4 separate regions of the Homo sapiens genome follow, and all the other regions are linked to region 4. The links come from fine-mapping of genetic effects on gene expression. A gene starts in region 4. Each other region holds a variant in brackets. All regions are shown on one strand. Distances are between the middles of the regions. Region 1 overlaps P3H2 (prolyl 3-hydroxylase 2). Region 2 overlaps P3H2 (prolyl 3-hydroxylase 2). Region 3 has its middle 27 kb from the start of P3H2-AS1. Region 4 holds the start of P3H2 (prolyl 3-hydroxylase 2).

What was found. PIP is the estimated chance that this variant, and not a neighbour inherited with it, causes the effect. A credible set is the group of variants that fine-mapping cannot tell apart.
Region 1: its variant is the best candidate, but not a certain one, in a credible set for the expression of P3H2 in unexposed skin (GTEx, PIP 0.60).
Region 2: its variant is the best candidate, but not a certain one, in a credible set for the expression of P3H2 in thyroid (GTEx, PIP 0.86).
Region 3: its variant is the best candidate, but not a certain one, in a credible set for the expression of P3H2 in esophagus mucosa (GTEx, PIP 0.77).

The regions. Positions count from the first base shown.
Region 1 is chr3:190,023,246-190,027,495 of GRCh38, reverse strand. All of the region lies in intron 1 of P3H2 (prolyl 3-hydroxylase 2), which reads left to right. Among named protein-coding and RNA genes, the nearest start is that of P3H2, 96 kb to the left of the region's middle. The variant G/A (reference allele first, on the strand shown) is at 1,854.
Region 2 is chr3:190,047,088-190,051,337 of GRCh38, reverse strand. The region is part of intron 1 of P3H2 (prolyl 3-hydroxylase 2); the gene reads left to right. Among named protein-coding and RNA genes, the nearest start is that of P3H2, 72 kb to the left of the region's middle. The variant C/T (reference allele first, on the strand shown) is at 2,494.
Region 3 is chr3:190,145,380-190,149,629 of GRCh38, reverse strand. No RefSeq gene overlaps it. Among named protein-coding and RNA genes, the nearest start is that of P3H2-AS1, 27 kb to the right of the region's middle. The variant CT/T (reference allele first, on the strand shown) is at 1,796.
Region 4 is chr3:190,118,615-190,122,864 of GRCh38, reverse strand. It overlaps P3H2 (prolyl 3-hydroxylase 2), which reads left to right and starts at 1,968. Exons shown (of 15, transcript NM_018192.4): 1 at 1,968-2,613. The coding sequence starts at 2,134. It overlaps P3H2-AS1 (P3H2 antisense RNA 1), which reads right to left and starts at 1,901. Exons shown (of 4, transcript NR_126419.1): 1 at 1,776-1,901. RefSeq lists an enhancer at 1,582-1,761 and silencers at 1,731-2,025, 1,972-2,201, 2,412-2,491.

The sequences.
Region 1 (4,250 bases), 95 kb after region 4:
TTCATTATAAGGTCATAATTCCTCAGAGTTAATTATTTTATTCCAGTACTGTTCAGGTACCCAACCACTGTCCCTCACGTGGGTTAAGAATGGGTTACTGTATTTTCCACAGTGGTGGAATTCGCTGGCTGTGAAACCCTGTTCTTGCCCTTGTGGATAGAACACAGAGATAAAATGCCACAAGATGTGTTTACATCATCTTTGCTTCATGGTATAGTATTATCTGTTGGGTGGTTTCTCTGTCCAGAGCTAAGTGGCGGAGATTTAGTTAGGTATCATAGTTTAAAACTACAGGCCTCAGAGCCAAACTGCTTGTGTTTGCATTACATTATCTGTTATTTCCAACCCATTTGTTTGGTGAAGTTAGTTGTACTTCTCAGTGCCTCAGTTTTGTCATATGTAAGTGAGAATGATAGTAGTACCTACCTTATAAAATTGTTATGTGTATTAAATGAGTAAATGTTTCGAAATCACCTAAAACAGTGCTTGGCTCGTATTGTAGAAGGCAGTTATGTTTTAAATAAAGTATAAATATTTTCTCCTAGCTTATCCCCTTTTCATTTTATAGCTTCATACACCCAGCAAATATTCATTGAGTTTTGATAAATACTACACACTTCGCAGATTGGGAAACCAGACCTGGTTATTAGAACAACTAATACCCGTATGATATTTTCAGTTTATGAAGCACTTCTTATTTTACTTTAATCTTTATGTTACCAGAAAGGGAGGGTTCTTGGATCTCCCGCAAGAAAGAATTCAGGGTGACTGCACAGAACAAAGTGAAAGCAAGTTTATTAGGAAAGTAAAGAAATAAAAGAATACTTACTCCATGGTCAGAGTAGCCCAAGGGCTGCTGGTTGCCTATTTTTATGATTATTTCTTGATGATATGCTAAACAAGGGGTGGATTATTCCTGCCTCCGCTTTTTAGACCATATAGGGTAACTTCCTGAGGTTGTCACGGCATTTGTAGACTGTCCTAGCACTGGTGGGAGTGTAGCAGTGAGGATGACCGGAGGTGACTCTCAGCGCCATCTTGGTTTTGGTGGGTTTTAGCTGGCGTTTTTACTGCAAGCTGTTTTGTCAGCAAGGTCTGTATGACCTGTATCTTGTGCTGATTTTCTGTCTCATCCTGTGACTTAGAATGCCTAACCATCTGGGAATGCAGCCCAGTACGCCTCAGGCTCCTTTTACCCAGCCACTACTCAAGATGGAGTTGCTCTGGTTCAAACGTCTCTGACACAACAATACTATAAGAAAGAGATTACAGGAATTCCCCAAAATTTGACTTTTAAGTAAACAGGCTAAAAGAAAGGGATGAATTTATTCAAGTTCATACACATCATGTAAAAGCTGAGACAAAATTCTGTTAAATTTCATTGAAAAAATGAAATGCTGCCAGTTTTGTAAACTGACTAACAGAACCTCCCCAGATGAAAGAAAAATGTTTTCAAGGGCCCGAGAAATAATGGTTAATAAAAACAAAAAATCAAATCAAAATAAAGTTAGCAACTCTAAAAGGTACTTTCCCTTACTAAAGACAAACACTTATTATTTTGGTCTTTAAAAAGTGTACTGTAAATCCAGTAGTAAATTTCTAAAATTAGCTTTTCAAAAAAAATTTTTTTTTGGTCCATGGTCAGGATTCTGCTCTTGATTTACAGATAATTTCCATTCTTATGGGAAGCATTGATGGTTACTTCTAAGATTCCCGACTGAGGTTTATTATGTGTTAGTCCATTTGTAAATGAATCAGCTCCAAAAATATCTCGAATTCATTTTATTTTCTTTCATTCATACTTCTATTTGACTTTTATCTATTTTGGGGCTGCAATATAAAGAGAAGAAGAT[G/A]TAAGTGAGACATAATGATAATAGCTTTATCAAACTCTTATATGCAAAGGAGAGTTCTAAGTTCTTAACAAATGCCAATTTACATTATCCGCATCATAACCCTCACAGGTGAATACTATTATTATGTCTTCTTTATACTTGGGGAAAATGAGGCACAGAGAGGTTAATTAGTGGTCCAAGAAAACAAACCTACTAAATTACCAGTTAAATTAAAATCCAGCCAGTTTAGTTTTAGAGTGTACAGTCTTGACTAACTCACCATGCTACTTATTAATGATTAAAATATTAAGAATTTAAAAAGTAATTGAGGGATAATGCAGCTTGGTTTTTTTAGCCTGCGAAAGAGAAAAATAAAAGATAATAATGTTATGGACTTTTGGCTTACAAAGGATGAAAAGTTACGGTCTCTGAGGGAAATTATTCCTGGAGAAACATTATGTTAGAGGCAAAAAGAAAAAAAAAAGTTCTACTAGTGACTGTGGTTGAAAAATTCAGATGAGGAAATGATTCATTAAGCAGGAAGCCCCCATTTCGTAGGCTTTACATATTCATAGGTCTATTTTAAGAGCTAAATATGACAGCATATATCAAGGACTCGACAGAGTGCCACTTGTATAGTTCCTTTAAGAGTCTTTTTAAAAGGCTTTTTTTTTGTCTTTTGATAAGTCAGTCTGTTTTTGGACTGGATTTTCCTCTGGGTATCAAGGACAAAAGTACTTGCCACATTTATGGCAGTGTTAGGGTGGAGAAGGGTTTCCATTTATGATCATGTGTAGGTAAATTGAAATGACTCCAATATTAACATTGTCTGTAAGAAAAATGTAATTCTGTGTGTTTTCTCTCACATTATTTGCTTGAAATCCTCTTTTTATATTCTCAGTCTTTCTTTTATATTGGGGACGATAGAGTTTTCTTCTGCTAGCCTTACAAATTCACATCATTGCAGATATAACAACCTGTAGAGGTACCAAAGCAGACAGAAGGCATCAGACACATTTACCAAGAGCCCCATCAATGCATATGAAAGAGGAAAGTAAATTCAGACTGTTGGAATTCATCTATTTACAATTTTTTTTCTTTCTTTCTTTCTTTTTTTTTTTTTTTTTTTTTTTGAGAGGGAACCTCACTCTATTGCCCAGTGGCAATATCTTGGCTCACTGCAACCTCTGCCTCCCCAGTTCAAGTGATTCTCCTGTCTCAGCCACATGAGTAGCTGGGATTACAGGCATGCGCCACCGCGCCTGGCTAATTTTTGTATTTTTACTAATAGTAAAGACAGGGTTTCACCATATTGGACACGCTGGTCTCGAACTCCTGACCTCGTGAACCACCTGCCTCTATCTCCCAAAGTGCTGGGATTACAGGTGTGAGCCACTGCACCTGGCCAATCCATCTGTCGTAAATAGTAAGATTTACATATTATATTTTTTGCTAACATTTATATATTAGCTGTATACTATGTGCACCATGTGTACTCTGATAGATATTTTAAAATTCAGGAACAATTATTTATACACTTAATTTATTTCATACCAAGCAGGGCCCCTGCATTAAAAAAACTGCAGGGGCACCATGCACCATGTCCTTATTATATTTAATATTATAGTATATCCTCTAAAGCACATATGTTTATATTTTACAGATGATGAAACGGGACCCTAACAGTTAAATAATTCACTTTATATCTCACCAGTAATGTGTAGTGGATGCATAAAAATAAGTGGTATTGGTAACAGAGCTTTCTGGACATCATGTTGCCTTTGTAATACTATGTAAAACATTAGTACATTAAACCTAACATAATTAAATACAGTTGAACAAAATACACAAATATTTGGCCTTCATAGCAAATCCAATCTATGGACTTAATCTTTTGGGCTTCCAAGTGTAGACTTGCACAATGCTTTTAAATACTGCCAACAAATTTTACATAGATAAATAGACTCTCATTGACAAGGTTAGGTTTTGTGTCCCCACCCAAAACTCCTCTTGAATTCTAATCCCCATAATCCCCGCCGCCCATGTCAAGGGAGAGACCAGGTGGAGGTAATTGAGTCATGGGGGCAGTTTTCCCCATGCTGTTCTCCTGATAGTGAGTTCTCACAAGATCTGATGGTTTTATAAGGGGCTCTACCCGCTTCACTCGGCACTTCTCCTTCCTGCCGCCTCGTAAAGAAGGTTCATTGCTTCCCCTTCGCCATCCTCCCTGGTTGTAAGTTTCCTGAGGCTTCTGCAGCCATGTAAACTCTTGAGTCAATTCAACCTCTTTCCTTTATAAATTACCCAGTCTTGGGCAGTTCTTTAGAGCAATATGAAAATGGAGTAACACACTCATCATCTTTATAAAAAATTGAATCACCTGCCAGTACTTTACCTCCATTCCCAAAACGGCAATTG
Region 2 (4,250 bases), 72 kb after region 4:
TTTTCCTATTTCCATTTTTTATAGAGAAAAAACAAATGTTATTTTGTATTGGTTGTTCATCATCCTGACAAAAGTAACTTTTTCTTCAGTTGCCTCTTCACTCTTTTCTCATCCAGAGTAACCTCCCAGCTATTAATAGCCTATTTCCTTTAAATCCTAACCTGTACCCGCATCAAATGGCATTAGCATTGTCCTGTTTCTGCATTATTGATTCTAACTTATCAAATTACATGATGATACAGTTATTGATGTCACAGGTGAACTAACAAGACCTGCACTACCTATAGCTATGACTGGTCTGCTTCAGTTCGCAGATTAGGAAATTGCTACAGATTAATATCCTAATTTCAGAAGGCATTTGACAGTATCTTTTATATTATGACTTCATGACCAGCTAGATAAATGTATTATCATTGGTATTGTGTAGGTTTGTGAAACAATTTACTTGGTATCAAGTAATGAATTGGTATTAAGCTGGAAGGAGGTCACTAGTATAGGTAGTAAGTTTCAGGCTAATACTCTTCATTCTTCTAATGTAATAGAATTTGCATGAAGCTGAGATATTATAACTTTATAAGAGAAGGTAACTGAGAAAAGATGACCAATTTTATTATAAAGCACAGTCTCTGTCATGAAGGACGAATAAAATCTAATGGACTTGTGTTTTCCTAATATTCCTCAAAAAACTCATATATACACAAACAAATGATCATACAGATATAGAACTGTAGAGAATTGACTTAGCCACAATATTTATGAGGACTCGAAAGTTTTAGTAAATTAATTGGAATCAATGATAAGACATGCCTTCCAGAAAAAAACAAAACCTGACATCTAAGTCTGCATCTATAGAAGCATAGATACTTCTAGAGATCTGAATTTCTGTAATCATTTTGAAGCCCCATGTCTTAAGACATTGACAAGTAGAGAGGATTAATTTGATGCATTCATTTAAGAACTAGAGCTGTGTCTTCCTGCAAAATGGAAGAGTTTGTGAATATGATTGTCGCTTTCAAATATCTAAAAAGCTATTGCAGGAAAAAGGAATTGCATTACTCTTCTTTTTGTTCTTCCAAAGTGCAAAATCAAGAGCAATAGTGGAAGTTATAGAGAGATAGATTATGGTTCAGCGTAAGAAAGAAATCCCGTTTGACTTAGATCTTTCGTAGGACAGAATGAACTCTTTTGGAAAGTAGCAATTTTGTTCACATGGGGAAAATTTAATCAGAGACTGGATGAACATTTTAGATTGATTTATATTAGCATTTTTCACTGCATGTCCTGCAAATTACCACCCTTGTAAGATATTTTGCAAGTTTCTGGGTCAACCAGCTTTGAGAGATATTACAGAGTATGTTGACCTCTTGAATATTTACAATGTGCATCAGCATATTAGAGACTCTGAAAGTTCCACAATAAAGAAAGCTGTTTAACTTTGTGTAACCCGGCATTTCCCAATTTATTTAAGCCCCTCAGTTTTTCACATGTCGTGGAACAAATATGCTTCAGAACTCACATTGGGAAATGCACTTAAAGGAGGTGAACCAGATAACTTTGATTCCGTGAAACTATTTTCTCCATATGTATTGACAGGTTATTTTATAAATTCACACACATACATCTGTGTGTTTGTGTTTGTGTGTATCTATGTAGCCGAGGGTGGGTTTTAAGTCTTATTTATAGATAGGTGACAATTTTGAAAGAGTTTTTATGAAGGCCAATAAATTAATAGCATGATGAATAAATACTCCTTTAAGAATCTCAACTGCCTCAAGAAAACTACAATTCTTAATTTTCCATAGAGATGTCATGAAAGCGAAATGTATTTGTCACATATCAACAACCACTCATCAACCTGAGAATAAGGCTAAAGCTCCAGAACTTTTTTTTCTTCTTTTTTTCCCTTTCCCTCCCCTGCCATTTAGGCGAAAAGCCAATTTCTTGAAAGTGGTACAGGAGGGGATGTGAGCAAATACAGCGTAATGATTGAGCTACAATTTAAGCATCTGGTTTTATTTATGTGCAAGCACCGTGCACAGAACTTAATTAATATGACTGAAAAAAAAAACCATGTGTCTATTGAAATGTTAGGTAGTGCCTCACATATGTGTGTTTCTCTTTCCTAAACACTCCCCGATCCTGATCTTTTTATCACACCTTCGAGATTCAGTTTTGTGCAAGATTTATGAACATGCAGTTTTTCTTCCTCTTCTGACTTTCTATTTTTCTTTCCCTGTAGTTTTATATCTAGAAAACTACTACTTTGGCAAGGGTTGAGGACTGAGTCACGGACGTGCCCTTACTCACGTCTTCTGTGATTTGAAGGCAGAATCTGAAGCAAATTCCAACACAGCTGTGAGAGGCAGCCCGTTTTTGTTCTTAAAATGCTAACTACACACATTTGCAAACCTGCAAAGCTATTTTTCTCCTTCCTTTGGAAGGTGTTAAGGCTAAAAGGACATGTAGACAGGAGACAGCAAGGAGAGTCCCTTT[C/T]CTGTCTCTGTTATAGAACTTCTATTTATTTTTAGTGTTTATTTTTTCACTTGTGAATGACATGATACTGACCTGGAAGAAACATTGCTTCTGGGATATGTAGCTGATCTCCTGCTACTGTCCCTATAGTCCACCGAAAAGTTAAAAGGCTTCAATTCTGATCATCTTCTCCAGGAGAATTTTTATAGCCAGTGATGTCAAGCTTACATTTTAACTTTGTTTTCATTTGTTTGTTTTTTAATATACTTGGTTATTAATGTCATAGTTCATCAATAGCCTACCAGGTACAAAAATCATCTAGTAAAATAAAGCAAAATCTATGGTAGTTATATTATTTTCAAAACTATTTTTTGGCATTCTCATTGTGTTGCCCAGTCTGGAGTGCAGTGGTGTGATCTCGGCTCTCTGCAACCTCCACCTCCCGGGTTCAAGCGATTCTCATGCCTCAGCCTTCCAAGTAGTTGGGATTATAGGCACCTGCCACCATGCCCAGATAACTTTTGTATTTTTTAGTAGAGATGGGGTTTCACCATGTTGGCCAGGCTGGTCTCGAACTCCTGACCTCAAGTGATCTGCCCACCTCAGCCTCCCAAAGTGCTGGGATTACAGGTGTCAACCACCACACCCGGCTCAAACCATGTTTAAGTTAGCAGAAGCCATTTTTAAAATAAAATCTCTTGAATCATTGTAATTTTTTTAAAAAGAGAGAAGAAAAAATAATAAATGAAGATAGTTGTGTTGGTGAAACTGCTCCTCTTCTGTATTCAACAGTCCTTGAGGGACCTCTAAAGTACCTCCAGAAGTCATTGTGACAGCCACTTCTCTCAAATGCAAGAAATCAGAAGAAAGACCTGTATACATAAAAAAAGGATAAAACAAGGGTAAAGCATTTCTTTGTGTTGAGAACTTTCCAAATCTTACCTTCTAGCTATTTTGCAATAGATTATAAATTATTGTTAACTGTAGTCTCCCTACTGTGCTATTCCATACTGTAACTTATTCCTTCTATCTAACTGTATTTTTATACCCATTAACCAATGCCTCTTCATTCTCACCTCTCCCACTACCCTTTCCAGCCTCTGGTAGCCATCAGAGACTACTTACTACCTCTATGAGATCAATTTTTTAGCACCTGTATATGAGTGAGAACATGCAATATTTGTCTTTCTGAGCCTGGCTTATTTACCTTAACATACTGTCCTCCAGTTCCATCCATGTTGCTGCAAATGTTTCTTCACAGGAAACATGGTGTATATATACACACGAGAATATTATTCAGCCATAAAAAAGAATACAACCCTGTCATTTGCAGGAACTCTTATGTTTAGATATCTGTACTTTCATGTTCATTGATGGACACTTAGGTTGATTTCACAGCTTAGCTATTGTGAATACTCCTACAATAAACATGAGAGTACAGATACCTCTTTAATACACTAGTTTCCTTTCCCTTGGATATATACTCAGCAGTGCGGTTGCTAGATCTTATGGTAATTCTACTTTTAGTTTTTTGAGGACTCTCCATACTGTTTCCATATTGGTTTCCATAGTGGCTGCACTGATTTGTATCTCTACCAACATCATTGTCAGGTCACCATTTGCTATATGAAGTCTTTTGGATTATAGCCATTTTAACTGGGGTGAGATGATATCTCACTGTGGTTTTGATTTGCATTTCTCTGATGATTGGTGATGTTGAGCACCTTTTCATTTACTTGTTGGTCATTTGTATGTCTTCTTTTAAGAAATGTCTATTC
Region 3 (4,250 bases), 27 kb before region 4:
TGAAGGAAGATTTTGTGGTAAGGGGTGATATTGTGGGGTTGTTAGAAGAAACATTTGTCATTTAGAATTATTGGTGATGGCCTGGATACGGTTTTGTATGAACTGAAAAACTAAATGGAATAACAGAAGGAGAAAAACAGGTATTAAAGGTCTAAGAATTGGGAGGACCTAGGACATCTAATTAGAGTGCCTAAGGAGATTCAGCGTAGTCCTGCCAGCAAAGATTATTTATTTACTTCAAGAGTTAAGAGTGGTAGTTTGGGGATAGCACCAGGAGATATCAGCTGTGATGGCTTGGAAAAACAGGGTAAACCGGCAGTGTAAACAAGAGCAGGGCATGTATGAGTAGTTGAGAACGGTGAATAGGAGTATGACTAGACAGAAGACAGTAGGGATGACAAGTTTTTGGGGGGCACAGTCTAAGTTGGTCTGGTGTCTGGAATGAGACTGGGGCGTAATAAAAAGGAGCGTCTATACAGGAGCTCAAATGGGCTGTACCTTGTAGCATTCTGACGACAGGTCTGACTTCTGAGAAGGGAAAGTGGTAAAAGTATTGTCCAGTCCTTTTCAAGTTGGTGGCTGAGCATGGTGAGGTGTGTTTTTAAAAGACCTTTAGTCCATTCTACTTTTCTTGAAGACGGAGGACCGTAAGGGATATAAAGGTTTCACTGAATACTAAGAGCCTGAAAAACTGCTTGGCTGATTTGACTAATAAAGGCTCATCTGTTATCAGACTGTATTGAGGTGGGAAGGCTAAACTGGGGAATTATGTCTGACAGAAGGGAAGAAATGACTGCGGTGGCCTTCTCAGACCCTGTAGGAAAGGACTCTACCTATCCAGTGAAAGTGTCTACCTAGACTAAGAGGTATTTTAGTTATCTGACTCGGGGCATGTTGAGTAAAGCTAATTTGCCAGTCCTGGGTGGGGCAAATCCTCGAGCTTGATGTGTAGGGAAGGGAGGGGGCCTGAATAATCCCTGATGAGTAGTAGAATAGCAGATGGAACACTGAGAAGTTATTTCCTTGAGGATAGATTTCCACGATGGAAAGGAAATGAGAGGTTCTAGGAGGCGGGCTAGTGGCTTGTACTATAGCATAACCTGCCTTTGCTGGTGTGTGGCGATTAGGCCTGGTGGAACCGCCATCAATAAATCAAGCATGATCAGGGTGAGGAACAGGAAAGAAGGAAATTTGGGGAAATGGGGTGAATGTCAGGTGGATCAGAGAGATACAGTCATGGGGGTCAGGTGTGGTATCAGGAATAATGTGGGAGGCCGGATTGAAGTCTAGGCCAGGAACAGTGGTAATTGTGGGACTTAGCAAAGAGTGAGTACAGCTGAAGGAGCCGGGGAGCAGAAAGTATATGCTTCAGGTATGAGGAAGAAAATAGATTTTGGAAGTTATGAGAAATGTGGGGAGTGAGTTGAGCATAGTTTGTGATTTTTAGGGCCTCTAAAAGTATTAAAGCAGCGACAGCCACTGCACGCAGACATGAGGGCTAGGCTAAAACAGTAAGGTCAAGTTGTTTGCACAGAAAGGCTACAGGGTGCAGTCCTGGCTCTTGTGTAAGAATTCTGACCGCACTAACTATGCCTAGGAAGGAAAGGAGTTGTTGTTTTGTAAGGGATTGAGGTTTGGGAGATTAATTGGACACGATCAGCAGCGAAAGCACGTGTGCTTTTATGAGAATTATGCCGAGATAGGTAACAGATGAGGATGAAATTTGGGCTTGACTGAAGTAATGGGGGCTGTCTGTGAAGCCTTGCGGCAGTACAGCCCAGGTGACTTGCTGAAC[CT/T]GATGGGTGTCAGTGTCAGTCTAAGTGAAAGCAAAGAGAGGCTGGGACGAGGGGTGCAGGGGAATAGTGAAAAAAGCATCTTTAAGATGGAGAACGGAATAGTGAGTTGTGGAGGAAGGTATTGAGGACAAAAGAGTGTACGGGTTGGGCACCACAGGATGGATAGGCAAAACAATTTAGTTGATAAGGCACAGATCCTGAACTAATCTGTAAGACTTGTCCGGTTTTTGGACAGGTAAAATGGGGGAATTGTAAGGAGAGTTTACAGGCTTTAAAAGGCCATGCTGTAGCAGGCGAGCGATAACAGGCTTTAATCCTTTCAAAGCATGCTGCGGGATGGGATATTGGCATTGAGTGGGGTAAGGGTGATTAGGTTTTAATGAGATGGTAAGGGGTGCATGATCGGTCGCCAAGGAGGGAGTAGATGTATCTTATACTTGTGGGTTAAGGTCGGGGAATACAAGAGGATGCAAAGGAGGCTTTGGATTGGGAAGAAGGGAGGCAATGAAATATAGCTGTAATCCAGGAATAGTCAGGGAAGCAGATAATTTAGTTAAAGTGTCTCGGCCTAATAAGGGAACTGGGCAGGTGGGGATAACTAAAAGGAGTGCCTAAAAGAGTATTGTCTAAGTTGGCACCAGAGTTGGGGAGTTTTAAGAGGTTTAGAAGCCTGGCTGTCAATACCCACAACAGTTATGGAGGCAAGGGAAACAGGCCCTTGAAAAGAAGGTAATGTGGAGTGGGTAGCCTCAGTATTGATTAAGAAGGGGACGGACTTACCCTCCACTGTGAGAGTTACCCGAAGCTCAGCGTCCGTGATGGTCTAGGGGGCTTCCGAGGCGATCGGGCAGCGTTAGTCTTCAGCCACTAAGCCAAGAAGATCTGGGAAGCAGTCAGAGAGCCTTGGGCCAGAGTTCCAGGGGCTCTGGGAGTGGCTGCCAGGTGAGTTGGACAGTCCAATTTCCAGTGGGGTCCCGCACAGATGGGACGTGGCTTAGGAGGAATCCTGGGCTGCAGGCATTCCTTGGCCTGGTGGCCAGATTTCTGGCACTTGTAGCAAGCTCCTGGGGGAGGAGGTTCTGGAGGAATGCCTGGCCGCTGAGGTTCAGGCGTTTGGAAGTTCTTGTGTGCTGGAGACGTGGCTGAGGTTTGTCTCACAGTGAAGGCAAGGAATTGCAACTTTTTTCTATTATTGTACACCTTGAAGGTGAGGTTAATTAAATTCTGTTGTGGGGTTTGAGGGCCGGAATTTAATTTTTGGAGTTTTATTTAATGTTGGGAGCAGATTGGGTAATAAAATGTATTTTGAGAATAAGACGGCCTTTTGACCTTTTAGGGTCTAGGGCTGTAAAGTGTCTCAGGGTTGCTGCCAAAGGAGCCATGAACTGGGCTGGATTTTTATATTTGATGAAAAAGAGCCTAAATGCTATCTGATTTGGGATAAAGAAAAAGAAGCATTAACCTTGACTATGCCTTTAGCTCCAGCCACCGATGGGCAGGTGGGGGAGGGCTAGTCACAGAAAGAAACTGTAAGCCGGACCAGGTGTGAGGAGGGGAGGTGATAAAAGGATTATAGGGTGGAGGAGCGGAGGCTGAGGAAGAATTGGGACCTAGCTCGGCCTGGCGAGGAGCAGCCTGGGGAGGAGGGGAGAGGTCAGATGGGTCTGTAGAAAAGGAAGATTAGAAAGACTCAGCGACGCTTGGGGTTGGGACTGAGGGGACAGGTGGGAGGGAAAGAAGGAAGATTTGGGAACAGTTGCTTTGGGAACAGAGACTAGAGAGGGACCGACGTGTAAAAGAATGCCTGGACGTCAGGCACCTCAGACCATTTGCCCACTTTACAACAAGATTTATTTAGATCTTGTAGGATGGAAAAATTGAAAGTGCCGTTTTCCGGCTGTTTGGAACTACTGTCGAGTTTGTATTGGGGTCAAGCGGTATTGCAGAAGAAAATAAGATGCTTAGATTTTAGGTCAGGTGTGAGTTGAAGAGGTTTTAAGTTTTTGAGGACACAGGCTAAGGGAGAAGAAGGAGGAATGGAGAGTGGAAGGTTGCCCATAGTGAAGGAAGCAAGCCTAGAGAAAAGAGAGAGTAGAGACACAGAGGGAAGGGGTTCGGGGGTTCTTACCTTCCAGAAAAGCAGGAAAGGGGTTGGGGCGTGGAAATAAGGGATTGGGGCACAGAGATAAGAGGTTGGGGCATGGAAATAAGGGATTGGGGTGCAGAGATATGAAGTTGGGGTACTTGCCCCTCTAGAAAAGCGGGACTTGCTGCTAAGAGTGAAGAAGAAGGGGTTACGGGTTTCTTGCCCCCCAGAAAGGTGGAGAAGGGGTAGAGACACAGAGAGAAGGGGTTGGGGTACTTGCCTCTCCCCTAGAAAAGCAGGACTTGCCGCTAAGGGTGAAGGACTAAGGCAGGCGTCCCTGCGTGGTCTGACACCTCTAAAACCTGGGT
Region 4 (4,250 bases):
AAATCTTTATCTGAAAACAGACAATCTCTAGAGAAAAAGTCTGGGCAGATGACTGATGTGCTAATTCTGGAACACTGACCATCCAAGGCATTCAATATACATTCAGCTCCAAACTGGAGCTTTTTCATCAGTGATATGAGCCGAATTAGTAACGTTTGGTGGGAAAAAAAAAGAGCATGATTCATCAGTGTCTCTTGGAATTACACAGCCAGGGCTGTTCATGGCCTGAGTGGTCAAACCTAACAAAATGAATGAAGGAATCAGCATGAATCTCTGGCAAGCCCCTCAGCGTAGTGGTGATTCCACATAAAAGCCTTCTTCGGAAAAATCATAGCAACTAGATACATGCGTGAGTCTTTTTCCCATTGCCTGTCCCTCTGCTCACCATTGCAGGGGCTGAAAGACTGATGAGATTCTCACAGGCACTAGAAGACCACAGAAATGCCTCCAGGAGGCAGGCTGGGATCCAGGGTCCAACCAATATTCTTGTGAGAGTGTGAAGCCAAGGAACACGAAAGAGGGGAACACCTTGGCTAAGAATGTATTCGTGACAGAGGAGAAGGGGAGGAACAGGAAGCCTCCAGCTAGTCGTTTGGAATCTGGCAACCATTTCTGTCAGCTTTCTCATTCCTAGATTGATGCAGATTGCTTAATTCCTTGAGGTAAGGGATATACTAAATTGCCTCTTTGTTCAACTCTTAGAATAAGAATTTCCCTCTCCTCTCCCGTCCCCTCCCCTCCCCTCCTCTCCTCTCTTTTCTTTTTCTTTGTTTTTTTTGTTTTTGAGACGGAGTCTCACTCTGTCACCCAGGCTGCATGATCTCAGCTCACTGCAACCTTCACCTCCCAGGTTCAAGCAATTATCCTGCCTCAGCCTCCTGAGTAGCTGGGTCTGCAGGCACGTGCCACCACGCCCAGCTAATTTTTGTATTTTTAGTAGAGACGGGGTTTTGCCATGGTGGCCAGGCTGGTCTCGAACTCCTGACCTCAGGTGATCCACCCGCCTTGGCCTCCCAAAGTGCTGGGATTACAGGGGTGAGCCACTGCACCTGGCCCACAGCAAGAATTTTTTTCTGAATAGCATTTTACGTGTTAGGCGTCTGGCTGTTTAGGAGATGAGGAAACTGAGGCCCTCAGTTGCCAAGGTCACACAGCTGGTAAACGGACGGAGCCAGAATGCGAGTACAGCTCCTCCTGCCTCCAAAGGTTCTCTGGGCCCTGTAAAACCACGGGCTGCACAGGAAAGGCAGGCTATATATTGTTCTTCCCCTGGCCCAGCGCCCTGATCCAATGCCCGGACACACATCCACACCAAGTTGGACGAAAAGGTAAGGGAGAAACCTTCCCCAAGAGAAGAAGCGGTAAGCTTTGGTTCTAAAGGCCCTGGGTTGGGTCCGTCCTTTGCCACTTCTCAGCTCTATGCATTTAGGCAAATCACTTATCTTCTTAAACCTCCGCATCTGGGCCTACAGGGCCTCTATGGGTTTTTTTTCTATTTATTTATTTATTTATTCTTTTTTTTTTTAACTTTACGTTCCGGGATACACGTGCAGAATGCGCAGATTTGTTGCGTAGGTACACATGGCATCTACGGTTTGATTCAGTCTGAAATGGCGCTCCAGGCTTCATTTAGAAGGTGAAGCACTCTGCAAACTGCGAGGCCATACAGAGATTCCAGAATATGATTAAGGCCCTAACCTTGCTAAGCTGGATTTTCTTTATTTCCCAAAAAGAAGACTAATACTATCCACTTGTACAACCAGAAGGGAGCTCACGTGTAAAGCGCCTCGTCCCCGGCCGGCCTCAAGCGGCGCTAGCTCTCTGGCTGGCGCTGGAGTGTGCCGCCCCTGGCAGCCCCGCCGCTGCAGCGGGGAGCCTGGGAGAGCGGCTCTCGGAGTCTCAGGCAGCAGGAGGAGCGTGTGAGCTGTGGGCGTCCCTTTAAGAGCGGCTGGCCAGGCACGGCCTCCGCCTCTCAGTACGCGGAGCGCCGGCGGTCACCTGGGGCTCGCGGAGCGGCCAGATCGCGGCGGAGTCGGCGCGCTTCCCCGAGGGAAGGTGGGAGAGGGGACCCGGACGCGAGGTGCCCCGAAGCCCTCTCGAGCGTAACCGTCCCGCGCCTCTCTGAGGCGGAGGATGCGGGAGCGCATCTGGGCGCCGCCGCTGCTGCTGCTGCTGCCGCTGCTACTGCCGCCGCCACTGTGGGGCGGCCCCCCGGACAGCCCACGCCGGGAGCTGGAGCTGGAGCCCGGGCCTCTGCAGCCCTTCGACCTGCTCTACGCCAGCGGCGCGGCCGCCTACTACAGCGGAGACTACGAGCGAGCGGTGCGCGACTTGGAAGCGGCGCTGCGCAGCCACCGGCGCCTGCGGGAAATCCGCACGCGCTGTGCCCGCCACTGCGCGGCGCGCCACCCGCTCCCGCCCCCGCCCCCCGGCGAGGGCCCCGGCGCTGAGCTGCCCCTTTTCCGCTCCTTGTTGGGGCGGGCGCGCTGTTATCGCAGCTGTGAGACCCAGCGCCTCGGGGGCCCCGCATCCCGCCACCGCGTCAGCGAGGATGTGCGCAGCGACTTCCAGCGCAGAGTGCCCTACAACTACCTGCAGCGGGCCTACATCAAGGTACCCACAGAGCGCTCCTCCACTGCAAAGCCCCTGCGGCTCTCACACGCTCTCTTGAGCCCTCCCTGCTGCCCCCGTCATCTCTGTTCAGTCTTTCGAATTGGGTCTCCTTAAATATGTGTCTCAGTTTGTGAATCCAGATATCTGGTGGCCCTATCTCTGTATGCAACAATTGATTAACTTGGACAAGTCTTTTTCTCTCTTTCTCAGAGCCAGCTTCTCTCTCAAAAAGAGGACTGTCCTGATAAGGTGATGTTTAAAGTACCCATTCAGCACTAATTCATGAGGCATTGACAAAGCTGAATCTAGTACAATTTATCTTCTCCCTTCTCACTTCCCATTTCTCTTCTCCCTTCTCACTTCCCATTTCTCTTCTCCCTTCTCACTTCCCATTTCTTTTGTCTCCTCTCTCTTATCCTTCCTATACTGTAGTCTGCACCTTTTCTCTGAAGTTTAAAAGAATCTTCAAAATAGTGAAGTTGAAAGACCTGTTCCAAAACAAATTTCTCTCTCTTCTCCCCTTCACCTACAAAAAAGTAAAGATCAAAGGTTAAAGAGAAGGTATGCTTGGAGGAGGCGAAGCTGTTTGAGGCAGTCTCAGTCAAAGTATCCACCCTAAGTGTTGACTTTTTCTCCTTTGATAGAGGGCTTACGTTTTCTGGTGGTATGCATTGGACTGGGTTACTAGGCATCAGTCCTCTCTTTCTAGTTTTATTTTTGTATGCCTAACTTGCCTAAAGTTAGCGTCAGGAGGTATAGTATGCATATTGACATATTGTTCACATCCATAACTTTGAAGATCTCTCTGGATGCTTCAGCAGAGGGAATTTGAATGAGTTCTTCAACCTCCACTGCCACTCACCCAATTTTCCTTCAAATTGACACTCTTAACCCTTCTTTCTCGTTTTCTGTGTTAATATATCAATGTATCTTCTACAGCTACCGGAAAAGTGGAAGCTTTGGGGTTGGTTGTTCATGCTAGCCAATGGACCAGGCTGCTCTGCTCTGCTCTGCTCTGCTGTGCTCTGCTTTGCTTTCTTTTCTCCTCTCCTCTCCCCTCCTCTCCTCTCCTCTCCTCTCCCCTCCCCTCCCCTCCCCTCCCCTCCCCTCCCCTCTCCTCTCCTCTCTTCCTTTTCTTTTCTTTTTTTGACGGAGTTTTGCTCTTGTCACCCAGGCTGGAGTGCAGTGGTGCAATCTGGGCTCACTGCAACCTCCGCCTCCCGGGCTCAAACGATTCTCCTGCCTCAGCCTCCTGAGTAGCTGGGATTACAGGTGTGCACCACCATGCCGGGCTAATTTTTGTGTGTGTTTGTGTATTTTTAGTAGCGAAGGGGTTTCACCATGTTGGCCAGGCTGGTCTCGAACTCCTGACCTCAGGTGACCCGTCCGTCTCCGCCTCCAAAAGTGCTGGGATTATAGGCGTGAGCACGGCTGGACCAGGCTGTGTTTCTAAGGAGATGAAAGTACATACCATGTTCAAATATCCAAATGCCTTTTGCAGCTCATCCCACAAGATCTCTGCCCTCATCTGTGGTAGGGTTCTCTCAGATTGGCAACTGTTGGTGGAGTGCACGAAATTTCAACTAAGTATAAATCTTAACTTCCTTGTGTTGTGGCTAAGGTGTTGGAGTTCACTG